4 separate regions of the Homo sapiens genome follow, and regions 1, 2 and 3 are each linked to region 4. The links come from fine-mapping of genetic effects on gene expression. A gene starts in region 4. Each other region holds a variant in brackets. All regions are shown on one strand. Distances are between the middles of the regions. Region 1 overlaps DNAH11 (dynein axonemal heavy chain 11). Region 2 overlaps DNAH11 (dynein axonemal heavy chain 11). Region 3 overlaps DNAH11 (dynein axonemal heavy chain 11). Region 4 holds the start of CDCA7L (cell division cycle associated 7 like).

What was found.
Region 1: its variant is fine-mapped to the expression of CDCA7L in whole blood (TOPMed, PIP above 0.99).
Region 2: its variant is fine-mapped to the expression of CDCA7L in whole blood (TOPMed, PIP 0.98).
Region 3: its variant is fine-mapped to the expression of CDCA7L in whole blood (INTERVAL, PIP above 0.99).

Annotation. Positions count from the first base shown.
Region 1 is chr7:21,880,506-21,885,505 of GRCh38, reverse strand. It overlaps DNAH11 (dynein axonemal heavy chain 11), which reads right to left. Exons shown (of 82, transcript NM_001277115.2): 75 at 4,613-4,804; 76 at 1,096-1,215. Among named protein-coding and RNA genes, the nearest start is that of CDCA7L, 63 kb to the left of the region's middle. The variant C/T (reference allele first, on the strand shown) is at 2,558.
Region 2 is chr7:21,854,414-21,859,413 of GRCh38, reverse strand. DNAH11 (dynein axonemal heavy chain 11) reads right to left here. Exons shown (of 82, transcript NM_001277115.2): 68 at 4,959-5,000. Among named protein-coding and RNA genes, the nearest start is that of CDCA7L, 89 kb to the left of the region's middle. The variant C/G (reference allele first, on the strand shown) is at 2,384.
Region 3 is chr7:21,897,334-21,902,759 of GRCh38, reverse strand. DNAH11 (dynein axonemal heavy chain 11) reads right to left here. Exons shown (of 82, transcript NM_001277115.2): 80 at 3,312-3,424; 81 at 2,640-2,780; 82 at 921-1,753. The coding sequence ends at 1,506. CDCA7L (cell division cycle associated 7 like) reads left to right here. Exons shown (of 10, transcript NM_018719.5): 10 at 408-1,861. The coding sequence ends at 438. Among named protein-coding and RNA genes, the nearest start is that of CDCA7L, 46 kb to the left of the region's middle. RefSeq lists enhancers at 4,388-4,447, 3,399-4,598. The variant G/T (reference allele first, on the strand shown) is at 3,346.
Region 4 is chr7:21,942,721-21,948,167 of GRCh38, reverse strand. CDCA7L (cell division cycle associated 7 like) reads left to right here and starts at 2,269. Exons shown (of 10, transcript NM_018719.5): 1 at 2,269-2,387. The coding sequence starts at 2,364. RefSeq lists enhancers at 1,671-1,920, 1,605-2,315, 2,311-2,460 and a silencer at 2,601-2,650.

The DNA of each region.
Region 1 (5,000 bases), 62 kb after region 4:
GGATGGTAACTTTGTATCTGTTGACCATTCATTCCCCATTCTCCCCTTCCCCAGTCTCTGGTAACCACTGTTCTATTCACCATTTATAGGAGATCAGCTTTTTAAGAGTCTTTATGTGTGTGAGAACATGTATTTGTCCTTCTGCGTCTGACTTATTTCATTTAACGTAATGTCCTCCAGGTTCACCCTGGAGCATCTTTTCTCTTTTTAAAAAACATAACTATATTACTTTATTATCACACATAAAATATTAACGGGAATTCTATATTACCATGATATGTTAATGTTAATTTCCCATTGTGTCATAAATGTGTGTGTTTTTTTTTTTTTTTTTATAGTTCATTTGGAACAAGATCCAAATAAGGTTCTTACCTTGCCCTTGGTTGATATATATAATCTTTTTTTTTACTATCTTGTTAGATTTAATTTTATTTTAAATTGACAAATAATAATTATATATATTTATGGGGCACAGTGTGATGTTTTGATACACGTGTACATCGTGGAATGGTTAAATCAGGCTAATTAACAAATCTATCACCTCACATACATATTGACCACATTTTTCTTGAGCACATATTATAATTGAGTAACTGATACTGGTCCAACTGTAGACTATTTTCTAGGACTTCCATGACAGGCAGAAAAGAAACTTTAGTGAAATAAACTCTGGAATAGAAATCAAAAGACTTCTATCAAAAGACGCACAAAACTCTTGCCTGTGCCAACCTAGTGGCCTGGGGCAAATCCCCATGTTTCAGCATCTCGGTCTAGAAAAGGGAATAACAGCGTCAGCTCTGCATACCTCATAGGGTTTTTATAAAGAGCCGATGAGTCAGTGCATGTGAGGCTGCCTCACGCTGGTGCACTCTCTAGCACACACAGAGATCACCTGGAAGACTTGTGAAAATGCAGATTCTGATTCTGTAGGTCTGGGATGGAACCCGAGATTCCGCTTTTCTAAGAAATTTCCCAAAAGGCCAAGCATCCTCAATAACATTAAGAATTGCCCATAGTATAATTAGTTTATAAAATTCTTACCAGAATTTTTTGCTCAGTGAAATTTATTTACAAATTAATTTACAAATGTCTTACCAGAGATGGATTCATGAATTCTTCTAAATACACCCGACACAGTTTGCGATCCCAGTCATCTGTGATGTGGCCTCCATACATGATCTCACCAAAGAGATAACGGAGATCTTCCCATGGGACCTGTGGAGAAAACCACACAAATATTCACTGCTGGGTGCAGAGTCTGCCTCAGAGTAGCCAACCAGTAGCACGTGCCCCTCTAACACAATGCCCTCCAAGCCTCCGTCAATAGGAGGATTTAAAGGTGCTTCAGAAATTGTCTAAGTTTCTGCAGAGAATTTCTTGGGAGAATTATTTTCAGTGTCTTCTAATATAGTCAGTGAAAATTCACTAACATTGAGCTGTTTATGAAGATTTTTTTTCTTTAAGAGATGAGGTCTGGCTTTGTTGCCTAAGCTGGAGTGCAGTGGCACAATCACAGCTCATTGCAACCTTGAATTCTGGGGCTCCAGCAATCCTCTCGCCTCAGCCTCCCAAGTAACTAGGACTACAGGCACAGGACACTACATCTCGCTAATTTTTTAAAAATTTTGTAGAGATGGGGGTCTCACTATGGTGTCCAGGTTGGTCTCGAATTCCTGGCCTCAAGCCATCCTTCCTCCTTGGCCTCTCAAAGTACTGGGATTTACAGGCTTGAGCTGCCATGCCCAGCCTTAGGCAGATTTTAAAAGAAACTGAGTCATCCCTAGAACATGTTTGCAGGGAAAGTTTATACATTCAAATTCTCATCTAAAAATTGTGAAAGGATGTTGGTTCACAGGGCCTTTGAAGTATGACATGTTTTTATTATCTGCTTTATATCAGCTTGTATTATCTGATTCAGGAAAAGAAAGCAACATCCACACAATTTGAATTTGGGGTGTATTTAGAATCCTAGTATTTTCCAAAAGTCCAGGCAAACAAATCCCCTTGCCACAGATGGAGCTGAGGGCTTGTCTTACGGCATGACTGGCCTAATGACTGTTCTAAGGGTTGTAACTAATGACTATACCATGTTTTATTCAAGAAATCACTGTACCTACTCTTTATTTGGCTGAGCAGGGTTTGAAGCCTCTCTTTGCTATACTTTAGCTTCTTCTGGGTTTGCAAAACATGCCAGTGTGTGATGAAGCCTTTCTAGACAGGAACCTTTACACCTTCGGGGGCAGTATACTGCCTCCCAACAGTTTAAGTAAAAACATAATTATAATTATAGCCTTCGCTTGTTGCGTGATGTGACAGAACAGAACAAGTAAAATTGCTTCAACTATGCCAATGTACTTTTCTACAAGTTTATTTGAATTTGAATAAATGAACCTCAAATATGTCTTTTAAGCTGGGTTGAGGTGAATGAAAAATAAGAGAGGGGTGCCTAGACCGCAACATGCTCTCTCAACCACTGCATGGACTACCTTCCAAATAGCTGAAATGGATGGAAAACAAAGGCTTCTGACTTTTAGTTCTTTTTCTGCTTACATTTAAT[C/T]GATGCTTGCAACACATTTCAGTATTCAATATGTATCTCTTTTTAATTTTTATTTAACTAGGGATCTGTTCTTTTCAATAATTATTTAAATAATTATCTGTTCTTTTCAATAATTATTTAGCTAAGGATTTGTTCTTTCCTCTTTTGTTTTTGAGACAGAGTTTTACTCTGTTGCTCAGGCTGGAGTGCAGTGGTATGATCTCAGCTTACTGCAACCTCCACTTCCAGGGTTCAAGCGATCCTCTCACCTCAGTCTCCTAAATAGCTGGAACTACAGGCGTGCATCACCATGCCCAGCTAATCTTTTGTATTTTTTATGGAGACTGGGTTTCCCCATGTTACCCAGGCTGGTGTCGAACTTCTGGACTCAAGCGATCCGCCCGACTTGGCCTCCCAAAGTGCTGGGATTATAGGCATGAGCCATCACGCCTGGCCTCAGATCTGTTCTTTTCAATAATTGATTCTCTTTCCCTCAATCCTGGTCTTTGTTTTTTACATATACTTTCTTGAAAAGGCCATTTTGTACAACCAAACATGTGCTCATAGGAATTTAATTCCCAAATCCTGATAAGTCGCCTTGTGATGTGCAGAAAATGACTGAGAAACATGAGAATGTGTTAAAAACTTAAGGCTGTGCTGATCCTGGAGCCCCAGGATGAAAAAAAAGCAGGACACAGTGTGACTCGGTTGGTCAACTGGTGTTTCCAAGACTCAGGATGTAAGAGCTGGAGAGAAACACGTGTGTCCACTTCCCTCTTCCTCCCCTTCATTTCCACCTCAATGGTGTATAGGATTCAGCTGAAATACGATTCTATTCCCGGTTGCAGCCTCACAGGACAGTTATGAAGGACATGAATAAAAGTCTTAAATGGTCCATTCCTTTTTCTACCTAGAACTGTTATAATTTTATGTGCAATAGTTTAGACAAAATGTGCTGGGAATCAACACAAAAATATTACTATTTAATAGAATGGTCAAAATATGCTCAAAGTATTCAGAATTACTTAATTCTATAAATTGAAAAATGAGAGATATGGAACACTGAACATCAAATACCATATTAAAACCATTTATTTTGGATACAACTTATTTAAAATTTGTTCCTTGGGAAAATATGCCTGTTAGGTACCAAGGGTATCTATTCTAATAGCAATCAAATCACCACCGAAGCCTGAGAAAGCTGACCAAAAAAGTTATAACAATCATTACTGAAGGAACATAAAACAATAGTTTCCATTTAGAAACAGAGACGGGTGATTTTAAAAACGCTTTATAGAAAATGTGGCCTAGAGTACAACACTTGACTGGTTTTGACACATGTATCCTAGTCTTAACGGATTTAACTTAATGAAAAAAGTTTCCCTTGTGAGGATTAAGCTAGAAAATCCTTAGGAATGAATGGTTCTTGCTTTTTGAAATCCAATCATTGGGTTTATGAGAACTTACACAAATGTTCTTGATGAGGCATTCCCATTCCCATCTGTAAAACACATTTTAGCTACGAAATAAAATCATTCATCTACCTTTAACTTCAAATCAAGGGGAACATTACTGAGAAAGTCACAACAAGGTGGCATCCTTAATACATAATAATGACATATGCAGGAAATGCACCATTATTTATACATGTGACGCGCTGTAAATTGCTTCCATCATCAGAACTAATTGTAGTGATTATTAATGCAGTGTTATGAACTGTCAGAATTGCTGTATGTAATTACATTTGTGCAAATGCTTCATTACCTGCCTAATGAATCTGGCATATACGCACATGTAAACCACTGTTTTTGTTAACATAATGAAGGACATTTTTTGTTTTTTTTTACACTAAGCTGCTGATGTAGAACTGGTTTGACCTATCTCATGAAGTGCAAACATCCACTGCTGGAAAACCTTTGATCTGGTTTATTTTCACACTTGGCAGAAGATACATACATAGTGTCAGCTATTTCAATAATAGCTTCAAAAGAGAAATTATGGTCAATTTTGATAGTGCCCAAAGACTGACAGCTTTGTAAACTCCTTGGAAGAGGTTATTTGACCACTAGCACTTACTTTAGAGTTTGCCTCTAAGTAGTTGTAGAGGACACTGGCACAAATGGTGAGGTCTCCAGGATTAAAAGGATAGCTTCGGCTCCAGCCCTGGGGGCCAAACCTCAGTCTCCCAGCAACACAGGCGTGGAAGTAGCAGAGAGAAAAAAGGATGCTTTTAAACTCCTGCTCCTTGGAGCATATTTCAAGTGTATCCTGGGAAAAAAGAGAAGAAATGCTTGATTATCCATCTGTATGGTTTCCAAGAGCAAGGGTCTGCGTTTTCAATAATCTTGTAAAGAACTTTGAGAGTGAGATACTACAGAGGCAGTCTTCAGCATGGCTACTTATCCAATGAGAAGCTTAACAGGAGATTATTTGGCATTTGCCAGTCTGTTGGCTTAAGAGGAAT
Region 2 (5,000 bases), 89 kb after region 4:
AGGTTGGGCTTGTGGCTCATGCCTGTAATCCCAGCACTTTGGGAGGCTGAGGCAGGTGGATCACCTGAGTTCAGGAGTTTGAGACCAGCCTGGCCAACATGGTGAAACCCCATCTCTACCAAAAATACAAAATTTAGCCAGGCATGGTGGTGGGTGCCTGTAGTCCCAGTTACTTGAGGGGCTGGGACAGGAGAATCGCTTCAACCTGGGAGGTGGAGATTGCAGTGAGCCGAGATTGCACCACTACATTCCAGTCTGGGTGACAGAGTGAGACTCCATCTCAAAAACAAAACAAAATGAAAAAAAAAATTCATGTATGTTTCATAGACACCTTATACACATAGCCTGAAGTTAATTTTATACAATATTTTAAACAATTTTGTGCATAAAGTGCATGAGGTCAGGTGTAGAATTTTCCACTTGGGGCATCTTGTCAGCATTCAAAAAGTTTCAGATTTTGGAGCATTCTGGTTTTTGGATTAGGAGGCTCAATCTGTACTAACCTGATATTTACACTTTCTTAAAATCAGTTTTTCGTTTACATACTATAAAATGTGCCTATTATATGCACAGTTTGATGAGTCTTGACAAATAGATATATTCTAACAATAACCGTAGCAATCAAGATAAAGAACCTTTCTACTTACATTACCAGAAAAAGTTCTCATGTGCCTATTTACAGCCTATTCCCACCACCATCGCCAGCCCCAGTCAATTACTGACCTGCCTCTGTCACTGTAGAATAATTTTGCCTTTTCTATAATTTCACATAAATAGCATCATATGGTATATACTCCTCGGTATCTGGCTGCTTCTTTTCAACATAATCGTTTGGTGACATATCCACGTTGTTGTGTGTACCAACAATTCATACCTTTATGTTTTGAGTAATAGCCCACTGTGGGAACATGCAAAATCTGCATGACTATTAATGTGTCAGTCCTTTGGATTGTTTTTAGACTTTGGCTTTTATGAATAAAGCATCTATGAACATTTGTTAAGCTTTTTGCAGGCATACATTTTTATTTATCTTAGGTAAATGCCTGGAGTAAAAGTGTGAGATCATATTTTCTAACTGTATATTTATCTTTACAAGAAACTGCCAAACTGTTTTCCAAAATGGTTTATTGCATTCCTTCCAGCAATGTGAGAGAGCTGTAGTACCATATCTGTGCTACACTTGCTATTAAGAGTCTTCTGAAACTTTAGCCATTCTGTGGGACATAGAATAAGACCTCATTCTGCTTTTATTTTGCATTTTTCTGATGCCTGATGAGCATTTTTAATGTGCTTGTGGATAATTCACATGTGTTATTACATGTCTGTTCAACTCTTATTACTGAGTTGTACAAGTTCTTTTTATATCCTGATACAAATTCTTTGTTTTATATATATGTATTGAGAATATTGTCTTTGCTTGTCTGTGGCCTACCTTTTCATCTTCATATCTTTTGAAAACCATAAACTTTTAAGCTTGATAAGGTTCAATTTATTAAGTTTTTATTTTCTATTGTGTCCTAAGAAATCTTTGCCTAACCCAAAGCCCTCTCTTATTTTTCTCCTAGAAAATGTATAGCTTAATAAATTCATTTTGAATTTTTTTATATAGTATAATAGTTTGAGGTTTATTTTATGTCATGTGGATATCCAATTGCTCCAGCACCATTTGTTGTAAAAACTGTCCTTTCCTCATTGAATTGTCTTGGCACCCCTACTGAAAATCAATTGACCATGCATTTGTGGGTGTACCTCGGGATTCTCCAATCTGTTCCACAGATCTATGCATTTTTCTTCAGGCCAGTACCACAACATCTTGATTCGTGTAGATTTAAGTCTTAAAATCAGAAATTGTAAGTCTTCCAACCCTGTTTTTTTTTTTCTTTTTCAAAATTGTTTAGCTATTTTAAGTCCTTTGAATTTTCACACAAATTTTCAGGATAAGCTTGCCAATTTCTACCAAAAGGAAAAAGGAAATGTCTTCTGGTGTTTTGATTGGGACTGAATTGAATCTATAAATCAGTTTGGAGCGAACTGACATCTTAACAATATTGAGCATTCCAACTGATGAACATGGTGTATCTATTTAGTTAGGACTTCTTTAATTTTTCTCAACAATATTTTGGAGTTTTTAGAATACAAACCTTGCATATATTTTATTAAAATTATTCCTAAAAAGCTTCACGGCTTTGGAAGCCACTGTAAATAGTGCTAAGACACTGATTTTATTTTCCACTTGTTTCTCATGTATAGAAATACAAGGTACATTGTATATCAACCTTATATCCTGCAACCTTGCTAAAAATTCACTTCTTAGTCCTGGCAGGGTTTTGGTGAGTTTCTTGGGATTTTCTATATACATAATCAGGTCATCTGTGAAAAAACA[C/G]AGTTTTTCTTCTTCTTTTAAATCTCTTGCCTTCTATTGTCTTACTGTACCGACTATAACTTCCAGTGCAGCGCTGAATAGATGTGCTGAGAGAAAGATATCCTTGTCTTGTTCCTGATTTTAGCGAAAAGCATTCCATTTTCAACATTAAGTATAATGTTGGTGTAGATTTTTTCTAGATGCATTTTATCATGTTGAGAAGTTACCATCTATTCATTAGTTGAGAGTTGGTTGGTTTTTTTTTTAACTCATTTGTTGAAATTTTTCAAGTTCTTTGCATCAACTGAAATGACCATATGAGCTTTTTTTTCTTTTATTCTGTTAACTGATTAATTACACTTCGTGATTTTTGAATGTTAAACCAATTTGATTCTTGGCATACATTCCACTTGGTCATGATACATTGTGCTTTTTATATATGGTTGGATTCAATTTGCCAACATTTTCTGGAGGAGTTTACCAACAATGTTTACAAGGGGGGACTGCCCAGTATTTTTCTTTTATTGTAATGCCTTAGTGTAGTTTTGGAATTTGGGCAATACTGGGCTGACACTGATGATTTAGTTTTACTCTTCTCCTCACACATGGTTACTTTCAAACTCCAACCACACTGTGCTTGTTAGAAGTTTTGCATACTAGTTCTGTACTGTTAGGAAACCTGCTAGTTATGCTTGATCCTTTCCTCTTTATTATTGCCCATAACCAGTCCATCTCCAGGAGCCAATGATTCCAGCTTCAAATCATATCTCAGGTCTGTTCACGTAACTCTGAGTCTTTTGTCATCACATCAGTTATCTGCTTGAAATCTTCCAATGGCTTCTTGTTGCACACAGATTATAATCCCCAAATTCCACACACAGTGGTCTACAAAACTCTGCGTGATTCAGTCTTTCCCACCTCTCTAGATTCATTTCTTGCTACCTTTCCCCTTGCTCATTACCCTGCAGCCACAGAAATTCACTCACTACCTGGAATCCCTGAATTCTTTCATCTCACACATTCCTGTTTTCTCCAAACACTCTTTACATAGCTAAGTCCTACTTATCCTTCAGAAATAAACGTTACTTCCTCTGGGAGGCCTTCCCTGAGCCCCCAGTAAAAGCAGCCTCTCCACCTCTATCATTCTGTCTTACAATACTTTCTACTTTTATAAACAAATGTATGATCATAAAGGTGGAACTATATCTATGTGTACATATATATCTATATGTATCTACATATAGATATACCTCCACCCTTATGTTTTGTCCAAAACTATACACTCAAGTGACAAGCATCTGACGTGATTGATCATAATAAACATTTGTCTAAAAACGGATGAACAGATGAACAGAATGAATGAGCACTGCCCAGCAGGCAGCAGCATGGTACAAGGTATGGAGCGTGGGCTTTGGAAACAGTTACAGGTTGAAATGCTGGCTCTTACAATAACAAATGTAAATTCTTGGGCAATTTATTTAAAGTTTGAAAATGTCATCCTTATTTTTTAAATGGGGATATTATATTCTTTATTGAGATGTAATAGGGATAAAGAATGAGCCAAAGTATAAAAATGCCTTGCATGTAATAGTGACTCAATAAATAGTTGTTCTTATTATTTTTCTTTCTTTAGCAAAGAAATATGAGCATTCTCTTTCCAAGACATATTTTCACAAAGACAAAATAGGAGCCTCAAGGAAAATTCCCTTAAAGAGTCTGCTGGCCAGGTGCGGTGGCTCACGCCTGTAATCCCAACACTTTGGGAGGCTGAGGCGGGCAGATCACGAGGTCAGGAGATAGAGATCATTCTGGCTAACACGGTGAAACCCCATCCCTTCTAAAAATACAAAAAATTAGCCAGGTGTGGTGGCGGACACCTGTAGTCCCAGCTACTCAGGAGGCTGAGGCAGGAGAATGGAGTGAACCCGGAAGGTGGAGCTTGCAGTGAGCCAAGATCGCGCCACTGCACTCCAGCGTGGGCGACAGAGGGAGACTCCATCCCAAAAAAAAAAAAAAAAAAAATTAAGAGACTGCTCAGGAGCAATACACCAATATAATATGATACCGTATGCACAGTTTAATTACCTCAAAGCCTTACTGAAAATTATAAATGAAAATTCCTGAGAATAAGAATTTTGCTTTTGTTATTTTGTTAACCAGATCCTCATGACTCCTTACTGGGTACACCGATGGCTTAAAAATACATTCTGGCTGTGCGCGGTGGTTCACGCCTGTACTCTCAGCACTCTGGGAGGCCAAGGAGGGGAGATCATTTGAGGTCAGGAGTTCGAGACCAGCCTGGGCAATGTGGCAAAACCCTGTCTCTACTAAAAATACAAAAATTAGCCAGGTGTGGTGGCGCACTCCTGTAGTCCCAGCTACTCAGGTGACTGAGGCATGAGAATTGCTTGAATATGGGAGGCAGAGGTTGCAATGATCACGCCACTGCACTCCAGCCTGGGCTACAGAGTGAGACTCTGTCTCAATAATAGTAATAATAGTTATTATTATTATCAATAATAAAATAAATTCCAATGTTCCAGAAACAAATTGAACTCCTAAAGTTTCCCATATTTCTTAGCTCATTCAGCATTACCTTCAAAGAGAATTGGTAGAGGGGGTTGATTTTTTGGAGGTC
Region 3 (5,426 bases), 45 kb after region 4:
CACGTTGCCTTTAACCAAAATTTCTCCTTGAGGTGTATGACAGAAATGGAAGGAACAAACAAACAAGGCAGGCTGAGGGGAAAGACACAGATTATGAAGAGGCAGCCATAATCCTAGTGCAGAGAGAGAGTTCAGGGCAAGAGGACAGAATGTGAGTTACAAGTTTCATTTATGTAATTAATAAACTCTGAATCGTGGTTCTGGAATGCGGGAGTGAGGCAAGTCATGCTTGGGGCGTACTACACCAGAGGGTATACGGATATTGATGCATAAATTGTCAGGATTTCGAGTGTCAGGAGATCTGGGTTCTGGCTTTGTACTCTTAGATGATTGTGGAATCTCTCAAGCCTAGAATGCCATTTGTGTATTTGTACTACTTTACCAAATACTTCTCATCTTTTTCCCAGCTTACAAAAGGAGCTGGTAGAAGACAATTAAGAGGAAAACAAACAGAACCAGCCACCTCACCATAGAGTACTCCAACAAGACATGCATACCATTGGTGCCTAAGAAAGATTTTTTTACAGTTGTGTTTTTATACAGAAATTCTTTGTAGAAATTACTATTTTTTGTTAAAGATTGTTTATATGCTTACAAAGATTTCTCAGGAAGACAGCAGAGCAGAGGAATCTATATAGATGTATGCACAGACCTGTCTGTATGCTGAACTTTGTTAAAAATATCTGCCAGTTATTAAAAAGCACAGTTTAAATGGGGTGGGGTTAAAGTTCAGGTAAGTAAGTTAGAGAGAAAACATTGTATGATCAGCTCCTGCACTTGATCTATCTATCTTTGGCTTCCCAAACAGTAACTCACTCCAGGCCAAGTGTGCCTTAGCACGAGTGACCACAGTTTAATAGACCACACACATCGTTTAACCTGCTCTTGGTCATTGGAAATTTACACTGAACAAAGTGCAATTAACTGTAGAACAGTTTTATTTTTATTAAAACTTGACTGAACAAAAGGGGACCATCAACATTGTAGACACTGGACACTGGAGGCCTTACAGAGTGCTAGCCTCTTCCTTCAGGACTCACCTGGGGCCTGCTGCTTTTATATTTTGAAAGAGTTTAAGGGCTAATAATTTAATTTGTTGTTTGTTAAAAATTAAAATCTCCGTTCTTTCCGGCTGCATTGCTTTTGCATGTTCACATATGATGTACTTTTATGATGTACTTTTTTTTTTTTGAGATGGAGTCTTGTTCTGTTGCCCAGGAGGGAGTGCAGTGGTGCAACCTCGGCTCACTGCAACCTTTGCCTCCTAGGTTCAAGTGATTCTCCTACCTCCTGAGTAACTGGGATTACAGTCGTGTGCCACCACGCTCAGCCCTGAGTTAGTTTCTAGTATTTTTTTCTGACTTTCACTCTAAGGATAGCGTTGAAAAAAGAATGCACGTGTGAGTTACTAAAAAGTTAGAATAATGTGCATGGGAACAGTGCAGCAACATGCTAGAAAATCCTCACTGCACTCCAGCAGAGGCTAGAGGAATGCCAGTGTTACCTTACGCTTCTAGAAGCAGAGCCACTCCAGCCAGAACCCATTTTGCAGTCTTCTCTTCGCTCTTCAGCCTGAAGGTCCAGATGTAGCTGGGGCCTCTCAGTTTGGTTCTATACACAGGGCACTCGTAGGTCTGTTTGGTTTCTTGTCTGTCCACGGGGGTGGCTTTTGCAAAGATGACCGGCATAGGGCATGCCAGCTCCTTGAGACGGGCTTCAACAATGGTTCCTGCTTGGGTGTCCCAGCGGGCGCCTATGGCAAAAACACAGCGGTTGCAATTGTGTGGCAGCTTGCTACTAATGATAATGATCAAGTAAGTTGTTTGATGCAATAAACATTCAACATTCTGGTTTTGTCATATTTTTGCTTGTCAGTGGTATTTTTACTGAGCTGGCCGGACTGAGCTTTGAAAGGTAGGTTACCCTGCCTGCAGCGGAGGCACCGCTTTGCTTCCATGCGTAGTGGTTAAACTTTCCTGTGGAAGTAAGCTGATTTTATGAAATGGGATTCTAAGAGAATTCACATACACTGAACTAGTTTGCCCTCCCTTTAAAAATCTCCAGTTCACCACATTTCCTCCCCGTCGCACCTTATTCTTTTACACCAGAACTTGTGGCACTTGCTTTAAACTGAAAAAGGAACATCTTGGTAGGGACTAAGTGTCCTGTGGAATAAATGCATGGCCAGATAAATTTGGAAAATATTGCATAGTCTAACCCCCTCTTAGAGATTCACCCTACGCAGTAGCATCTTCCAGGCTTGGAGAAGTCTTGTAGTAAAACATTAGAGCAAATTTACTGACAGTTTTTAAACAATAGAAGAAAGATTTTGAAATGATTATATTGAAAAGCAAAAAGAATGTAAATTCAGTCTAAGTCTAATGATGTTATTCAGTGGCATTAACATCCAGATATATGTGCAAAATTTAAGTGATAGCCATCACCCCAAATATTACAGTTTGGTTCACAGTGGACACACATCCCAGCACTTAAATTATTTAAGAGGAAGAAATGAGATAATGACTAGCATAAGGTTACTGTGTGAGTGAGGAGATGCTGAGAAACAGTAAGCAGAGGACAAACACTGATCTGAACCTGAGTAAGAAAAGGTTCCCCACTTACCCCTTGGGGTGTCTTACCCTCCATGAAGAGTCCGTGGAGGTATGCACCTTCCCTTGGCGGGTGTCCATAATCTTCCTTTGTTTTTTTGGTAACATCAGCAGTCAAGCGCGTTTTATCCAGGGGCCACTCATTTTTTCGAGCCATCGTCTGCATGATTGCTTTGGAAATATAACAAAAATTGAATAGGATAAAAGTGTTGCATGTAAGGTTCCCGGGAGCTACCAGTAAATTGAGGCATCCTTTAGTCCCATAGGGTGTTTTAGGTTCTTGGGCATTGGCACATGGCTGCGCTGGAGCAGGGGGTTGGCCAACTAAGGCCTGCAGGACAAGCTCGCTGTTTCTGTAGATAGTTTTATTGGAATAGTCACAGCCATTTGTGGATTGTCTGTGGTTTTCGCACTACAGTAGCAGAGAAGCTATGTGGCCCTTTCCAGAAAATGTTTAATAAGAGCACACCGTGCCCCACCTCACTTGGCTACTCTTGCTGCTATAGGAGGTCCTTTCCCTCCTGCTGCTACTCGCCTGCCCAGGACTCTGTTTCCTCTATAGCTGCTGGTCCTTTCTATAATGGCTGCTGCTTGAGGATTGGTGAGCAGGGCAAGGAGACGCCATCATAGGTAAACAAAGCAGGGCTTCTGGTTAGGCTGTGGTCCTGTGTGCATCAGGGGCTGCACTGCGTCAGCCCTTACCAGTTAAGAAGGACTGAGGGTTGAAGAAGCCGGA[G/T]AGCCACACGACAGCCGGAAGGGTAAGGTCTTGTGTCCAAGTATCGAGTTCTCGGCATCGCAGGAGGAGGTCATTGAACCTGGTTTATGGGAGGGAGGAAGAAAAACTTGCTGTTCAGTAAAATAGCCATTTTCCAGTATGTTCTGTTGTGGGCGGTTAGGGCAGGGTGGTGGTGGAGGAGAAGTATACCACTGCTAGCTGGTAAAATCCTTCCCTGACAATTTGCAGGGCACTGTCCCTTTAAAGGGCTAGTTTGTTTCCCATTGGAGACTTGATGACTGTAGCGTTTACATTAGAGCAAGATACACTGAGGAATGTGGAAAACTCATTTCCATTTATGCAACAGCTTTTATTAGAGCCTCTTCATGCTATGTGGTGACTATACAAAGGTCATCACCCTATGACTTGGACTGACAAGCGCCAACTTGGAGGTATGGACAGGGTGTCTGAGGACCAGGGATGGCAAGGCTGTGATGGTGGTTACAAGACCAGAGTTGCCGGGAAATCTGATTGATAAGCAGAGGGAACAGCATGTGCGGAGGCAGTGGAGCACGTGACGGCAGTCTAAGCACGTGCAGTAGCTGCCTGAAAGTGGGGAGGAAAAAGGTTAATTAGGAAAACAAGTCAGCCAGGAATGGCACGCCGGTGGGTTGAGAAACGCTGCTGTTACGTACATGTTCTCTTCTCGGCTCCTCACAATTGGGCAAGGTAGGAAGTATTTGCAGTTGACCTATAAGGAAGCTGGCTCACAGAGGCTAGGGACAGATGAACCTCTTCGATAAAATTAAGAGAGAAGTGAAACCTTGAATTGTAAGTTTCAGAGGCTGCTTAAAGGGGACCAGGAGAATGGAGTAGAGAGCATAGCCTCAGTGTAAAAGCCAGAGTTCTCTAGAAGGAAAGGCTGGCACTGAAGTTTTCTAGGACCTTGTCTGCTTCAGATATGCAAAGGAAGTGGGGGTGAATGAGGAAACACCCTGACAAACCACATGGCAGAACATGTCTGCCTGAGATACTTGCCTGACTCTGGGCCGTGAAGAAGAAAAGGCTCAGAATGCTCACGGTCAAACTTACGTCACCACAAGGAAAATCTCTGTGCCCGGACCTATATTAAGTTCTTCCAGATAGCTGGATCCGAAAAAGCATACTCGACGATAAGAAGAAGAAACAGCATAGGCACCACACAAAGGAAAAAGGCGAATGAGAAAAGCAAAGGCAGGAAGACATTTCTCTCAAAATGTTGCCATCATGAGGATAAACACTGCAGACAATTTGTAACAACTAAAACAAGTGATTGTTGATATAAACAAGATCATGACTTAGAAGGGATCAGGTAGGAAATAGTAAGGAAATTAAGTTTGAAGACCCCAAATAAGAAGTAGAAAATAAAATTATAGAAATGAAAGCAAAAGTGAAACAGCGTAAGGGAGAATAATAAAAACAAATGGAAATAAAGAGGTAAAGGGTTAGAGTGAAAGCAATAAAATGAAAGCTGAAATGAGGCCAGACGTGGTGGCTCACATCTGTAATCCCAGCACTTTGGGAGGCCGAGGCAGGTGGATCACTTGAGGTCAGGTGTTCGAGACCAGCCTGGCCAACATGGTGAAACCCCATCCCTACTAAAAATAACAAAGTTGGCCGGGCATGGTGGCACATGCCTGTAATCCCAGCTACTAGGGAGGCTGAAGGCAGGAGAATCGGTTGAACCCAAGAGGCAGAGGTTGCAGTGAGCTGCGATCACGTCACTGCACTCCAGCCTAGGCAACAGAATGAGAATCTCTCAAAAAAAAAGTGTAATTCTAGAAAATTTGAGTTTTCCTAAATTATACCTTTGAATCTATACAATCAAGGGCACATCATGTTCCAAGAAAATTTGGTAGAGAGTAATCAATACTAAAATATAAAGAATAATATGAACAATGAAGAATCCCTGGATGGCCAGGGGAAAACATGAAGCCATTTATAAAGGGAAAAGAAGTATGCTAGCTTTTGACATCTCCACGGCAGCATTTGACAAGAGGAGAGTGATGGCTACAAAGGCCTCCAACTGAGGGTGTTATTATATTTTAATAACTGGCCAAACT
Region 4 (5,447 bases):
GTTGCATCTGGAAGGGACACTCATTCTTGCAGTGCCATGATGAAACCCAGTGCTCACATCCCGTGAACCCTATCAGTAATAATTATTAGAAAGTATTACTGCAGTGCCATGTTTAAATCCTCTGGTTCCTTAGAGATTTTCCCAAAGCCTGACCAAAACAAAACAAAACAAAACAAAACAAAACACACCACTATATAATCAATTACTAAATACCATCAAACGTGTACAGGCTTTGCTAAGCACAGGAAGAAAATTTAGGGGTTGTCATCTGAAGACTTAGGGTTAGTTATGGCAAATTTCTAAACAGAAAGGTTCAACAGCTTACAGGTTTCCTGATACAGAAGTAGCTAGTCTAGGCTGCTTCAAGTGTTTTGCAAAATCTGACCTGCTTCAAATTTGTGCTCCCTTTTCCAAAATTGATTTGATTTAACCTACAATGAAAAGAAGTGCAAACAAGATCAGCAGTTCATGAGGAAGCAACTATCTAAAAAAAAAAAAAGAGGAAGAAGAGCTCTGATTGAATTAATTTTCACTCTAAGCTTCCTGGCAGCCAAAGGGAAAAAATACAGAAAAATGGAAAGAATGTTGGATCTGGAGGCATAAGGAATGGTTTTCAGTTTGGCAGTCTGCTGCTGTCACTTAGTGGCAGGGTGGCAGGGATCTCTTAATGTATTTTCTTAGATTCTGTTTCCTTATTTTAAAAATGTGGACAATAAGGATCTGGAAGGATATTGAGAGGATTCAAGGAGATACTGCATGTGAAGGAAAACTCTAAAGCATAATAAAAATGAAGTGGCCATAATGAATAAATAACATTATCCAATAAAAACAAAACATTTTAAGTCACACAATGTTGTATTGGTTTTACTACCACCAGGAAGTGAGAACACTGAGGGCTGGAACATGAAAGCACATAACACATGTTGTTTGCTGAACTAACCAAAGGAAGGAAGGAAACCTTTTCCATGTTTTCTCTTCAAGCTTGAGTAAATGTTTGGCAAATTTCATTCACTCGTTCAATAAAGAAAAGATGAACGTCAGATCCTAAGCAGCTGAGAGGGGCTGCAGAAGGTCCTATGCGTACAGGATGCTCTACTGTAAACCTATGACCACGGTTCTAAATAGGTGTGCAACACTGTCCAGCAAACCTGCTGTGATTTCAGGACAACTTCATTTACCATTCTCCCCACTCTCTACTTCAACTCTCCCACAATTTCCACAAACTTAATTCCTCACTCTTCATATCTGAACTCTAAGAAGTATTCCCTGACCTCTATCAGATTGTCTTCCTATTTCACACCACCATTAATACCACTTGCCTTTTTTCTCATGGCATCATCGCTCCAAATTTACATTTATTTGCATCATCATTACATTTGTCATTGATAGTGGTATCAAATTAATATTAATTATAAATCTAATTTATAAAATTTACATCGTTATTACACTTATTTGCATCATTATTGTATTTATTTAGAATAATGCAATTAGGTTGGTAACTGGCTCTCAGGCTGTAAACTCCAACAGAGCAGGGGCCTGTTTTTGTTCACCCTTCTGTTCCTAGGACTAGCCCAGTGCCTGATGCTTAGTAGATGCCGGGGTCAATTCTGTTAAATTAGTCAGCATTCCTGACCTCTACAAACTCTTTGTCTGGTGGGTGTGGAGGCCTACTGTGTAATGGCCGTCTAAAGTTTCAGGCGGGTTTGCATCTGTCCACCTGGGCCTTGGTAAAGAAACCTGGGTTGCCTGTTCTGCAAAGTGAACCCTGTAGCAAATGTTTTGGGAGACAGAATCTTCCCAAAGAGAACCCTGCCCCGTTACAACAACAAAACAAAACAAGCCCCAAAGCCGCCCTACAATATTTGCCTGGATCAGAGACAGGGGTTGCAGCAGAAGCTCGCGCCCCAGGGCATGACCTGGAATAAACCCTGCCAAGTATCCAGCGCGCGTGCCAGCTGGAGGCTGCGCCGGGACAGCCCCCTCATTTCTCCCGCGCTAAACCCCGCCGGACGGCTCCACTCCCTCCCTCTGCTGCAGGGGGGAGCCCGGCGCCCTAACACTGGTAATTGCTCTTGCCGCGCCCAACTGCAGCCCCCTCTCGCGCCGCCTGCGAAGACAAGGTCAGTGGCCGCGAAGTTGGAACGTGATCGGAGCCACGAGGCCCAGTGAGGCGGCACCGAGGGGGCAGCGCAACGCGCTCCCCCTGTCCAGGGCGTCAAGTGCGCCCCTCCCGGGGCCCGCCTGTGCTCCGGGCGGAGCGCGCTAGCTGCTCGGGCGCGGGGCGTTCTTGGTGCGCCGGGCCGTGGTGAGTCCGGGCTCCCGTGGCCGCGTGCTGGGAGGAGACTGGAGCCCGGTTAGGAAGAATGGAGTTGGCGACTCGCTACCAGGTGAGGGTCCGGCCGCCCGCCGCCGTCCGGACGCACCCACAGTTTGACTTCCCTTTGCCACCCGGTCCTGCTGGCCTTGGGCTGGAAACGTGGCCCTTGGCTGCGGCACTGGGGATCTGGCGCGCCCAGCCGGTTGAGTGCCGGAGTGGGCGCGCCCTGCAGGTGTGCGCAGTGGGTCACGTTTGTGCTACGCGGACCACAGAGGCCGGTCGCCCCAGCACACAACCGCGCTCAGCCTGGCGCTCTGCTCAGTCTCGGGTGGCCGCCGGGGGTGCAGGCGGGGAGCTAGCGGGGCGCAGCGCCTGCGTTTGCAGCCCTCGTGAGACGGGGGAGGGGCTTTTTTTGTGCACTCCCCACACTTTCTCCGGGAATTGGCACAGAGATCAGGAAGCTTAAGAAAGTTGTAATTTTTTTTTTTTAACAGTCGATCGCCAGACCAGTCCAACTTGGATAATGGAGTTTAAAAATAATAACTTTAGTGTTTATTCTAGAACTTTTGTAAACGTTTTCAAGGAATTAGTAACCATTTGGGGGAAATGGTAACGTCATTGGGCCGAGTTAAACAAGCTGCAAGATCCCAAATCATATGCACAGCACGACCCCAATTACGCGTTAAGGGCCTAACTCGTCTTTAAAACTCATTAGCAAACACTTGAGTAAGTTCCCCCAAACGTTTCAGTGAGTAGTGGGAATGTGAACGTGACTTCAGTTTTCTCTTTTTACTTCTTAAAAGAGCTTTTCTCTACGTTATCGTAATGGAGATACATGTTTACTTAGAAGTAAGCAATAAAAACATTTTTCATAAGAACTAAAAATACAACCTTTAAAAAGGGAAACAAGCAGCCACGCCTCTGCTTGTGGGAGCACGGAGATGCTTTGTGCGAGGATTGTTTTTTTTTTTTTTTCCACTTGTTTTATTGAGAGTCGCGAGACTCACTGCTTCCACCTTGCTTCCGACTGGTGTTTACTTTCCTCCACCTGCGTGCCTGGCCCGGGAGAAGGGGAGGCGGGGCCGCCAGCGTTGGAAGGCGCAGAGTGCCCGGCGCCCGAGCCCAAACCGCTGTCACCTGCCCGAGTCTGGCGGCAAAGACTGAGCCACTAACGGTAGCTTTGGCCTTTTAGTAATTTCTGAAGCCTTCCTGAAAATGGTCGCTTGAGAAAAATCTGTTGTTGATGTTTCTGAGAATATTTTTAAAATGCCTCCTGTGAGATAAACTATTAAAAGCAAGGGAAACAGTAAAGCCTACGGAATGAGACAGGGTTCGATTTTTTATTTTTTGCCACTGGCTTTTACCGTGTATTAGCATCCTTTTTTTTTTTTTTTTTTTTTTGGAGACGGAGTTTCGCTCTTGTCCGGGGTGGAGTGTAATGGCGCGACCTCGGCTCACTGCAACCTTCGCCTCCCGGGTTCAAGCAATTTTCCTGCCTCAGCGTCCCGAGTAGCTGGGATTACAGGCGCCCGCCACCACGCCTGTCTAATTTTTTGTATTTTTTTTTTTTTTTTAGTAGAGACAGGGTTTCACAATGTTGTCCAGTCTGGTCTTGAACTGCTGACCTCAGGTGATCCACCTGCCTCGGCCTCCCAAAGTGCTGGGATTACAGGCGTGAGCCACCACTTCCGGCTGGCGTCCTAACCTTCTAGGAGTTTCTGTTGCTACAGGACTAAAAACAAAAAACAAACCCTCTGGATGGAGATTTGAGCTCCTTGTGAGTTTAGTCAGAAAATGTATCTGGAATTTATCACTCCGGAGCTCCTTGTGAATGTAATCAGAAAATGTTTCTGGAATGTGTCACTCCTGTTGTTAAGCTGGAGAGTTCTTTGCACTTCCACTACTGATATTCATAATTCATGCTTAGGAAACTCAGAAGTCCCAGAATGTGTAGTTGGAAGTGAGCGTTTACTGCCACACAATGAGGCTAATTTTTGGTAGTTCTAAAATGTTAAATAAACTATTTATCATGTAGGGGTTACCCACAAATTATATCCGATCCATTATGCACCAATTAAGGCAAATTACTATATGTAAGATGATCAGGGTTTTTTTTTTTTTCCTTTTCTGAAGACCTAATTGGCAGTGCAAATCAAAGATGTGTGATGGTTTTTCCAGTGGAAATGTTCCTGTTCATCGTAATTTAAATGTGCACAGATTATAGTCTCTAAATTAGTGGAGAGTGGTTCTGTGGGGTGGGCAGGTGACTGCGGATAAGAACACTTAATGAACATTTCAGGCACAGCAAGATGTTAAATTCGTGTGGTTCCACCCTGTCCCCCAGCCTTATGAATAAAGCAATGTGATGAACCACCTGAAGTGGCATTACTGCACATCAAATGTCGCTCAGCTCAGTGTGCAGTGGGTTTTCATCTCACACATTGGAGTAAGTATAATTTCTATCGCTTGGAAAGCGCAGAGCTAAGTGTTTCAGCAAAGCAGCTTAGGCCTAATGTTATGAGTAAGAAGCAAACAAGGAGACTCATTTACTCTGAACTACTTTCGAGTCTGCTTTCCTGCCATCCCACCAGTGTGTTGGATTTGATGTCCTCTGACAGTGATTACGCTTCCCCCAGGCTGTAGTCTTGTCGTGCTGACCACTGTGTCTTTGTGCTTTTATATAAAATGACAGAAATAGCTCGTAAAGGCAAGGGTGTGATCCCTGACTAAGAGCTGTCAACAGTGCAGCTCATGGGAGCTCCAGCTTGCTGCAGCTCCGTAGGAGAGAAACTGGTAGGCACTGAATGTCAGTGTTCTCCTCGTACTCTGTTCTAGCTCCAGAGTACAGGATGGCCCATTTGAGAAGGAAATGATGCTAAATGTTCTTGTAAATAGGCAGGAGCACGCTGTTGAAGGGGTAAAGGGGTATTTTTCTGGTATTGGTCTCTTAGCTGCAAAGTGCTCCCATCTGATCCTGTTGTTTAACATGTAATTCCAGAGCCCCAGAAGCTGGTCACAGAAAGGACAATGATTTGCCACTCTAATAGTCTTGTATTTAAAACGCTCCTTGGTTGTTCTGTGTTCTGCTGGCTACCCCATCCATAGCAGAGCAGGATTCTCAAAAATCAGG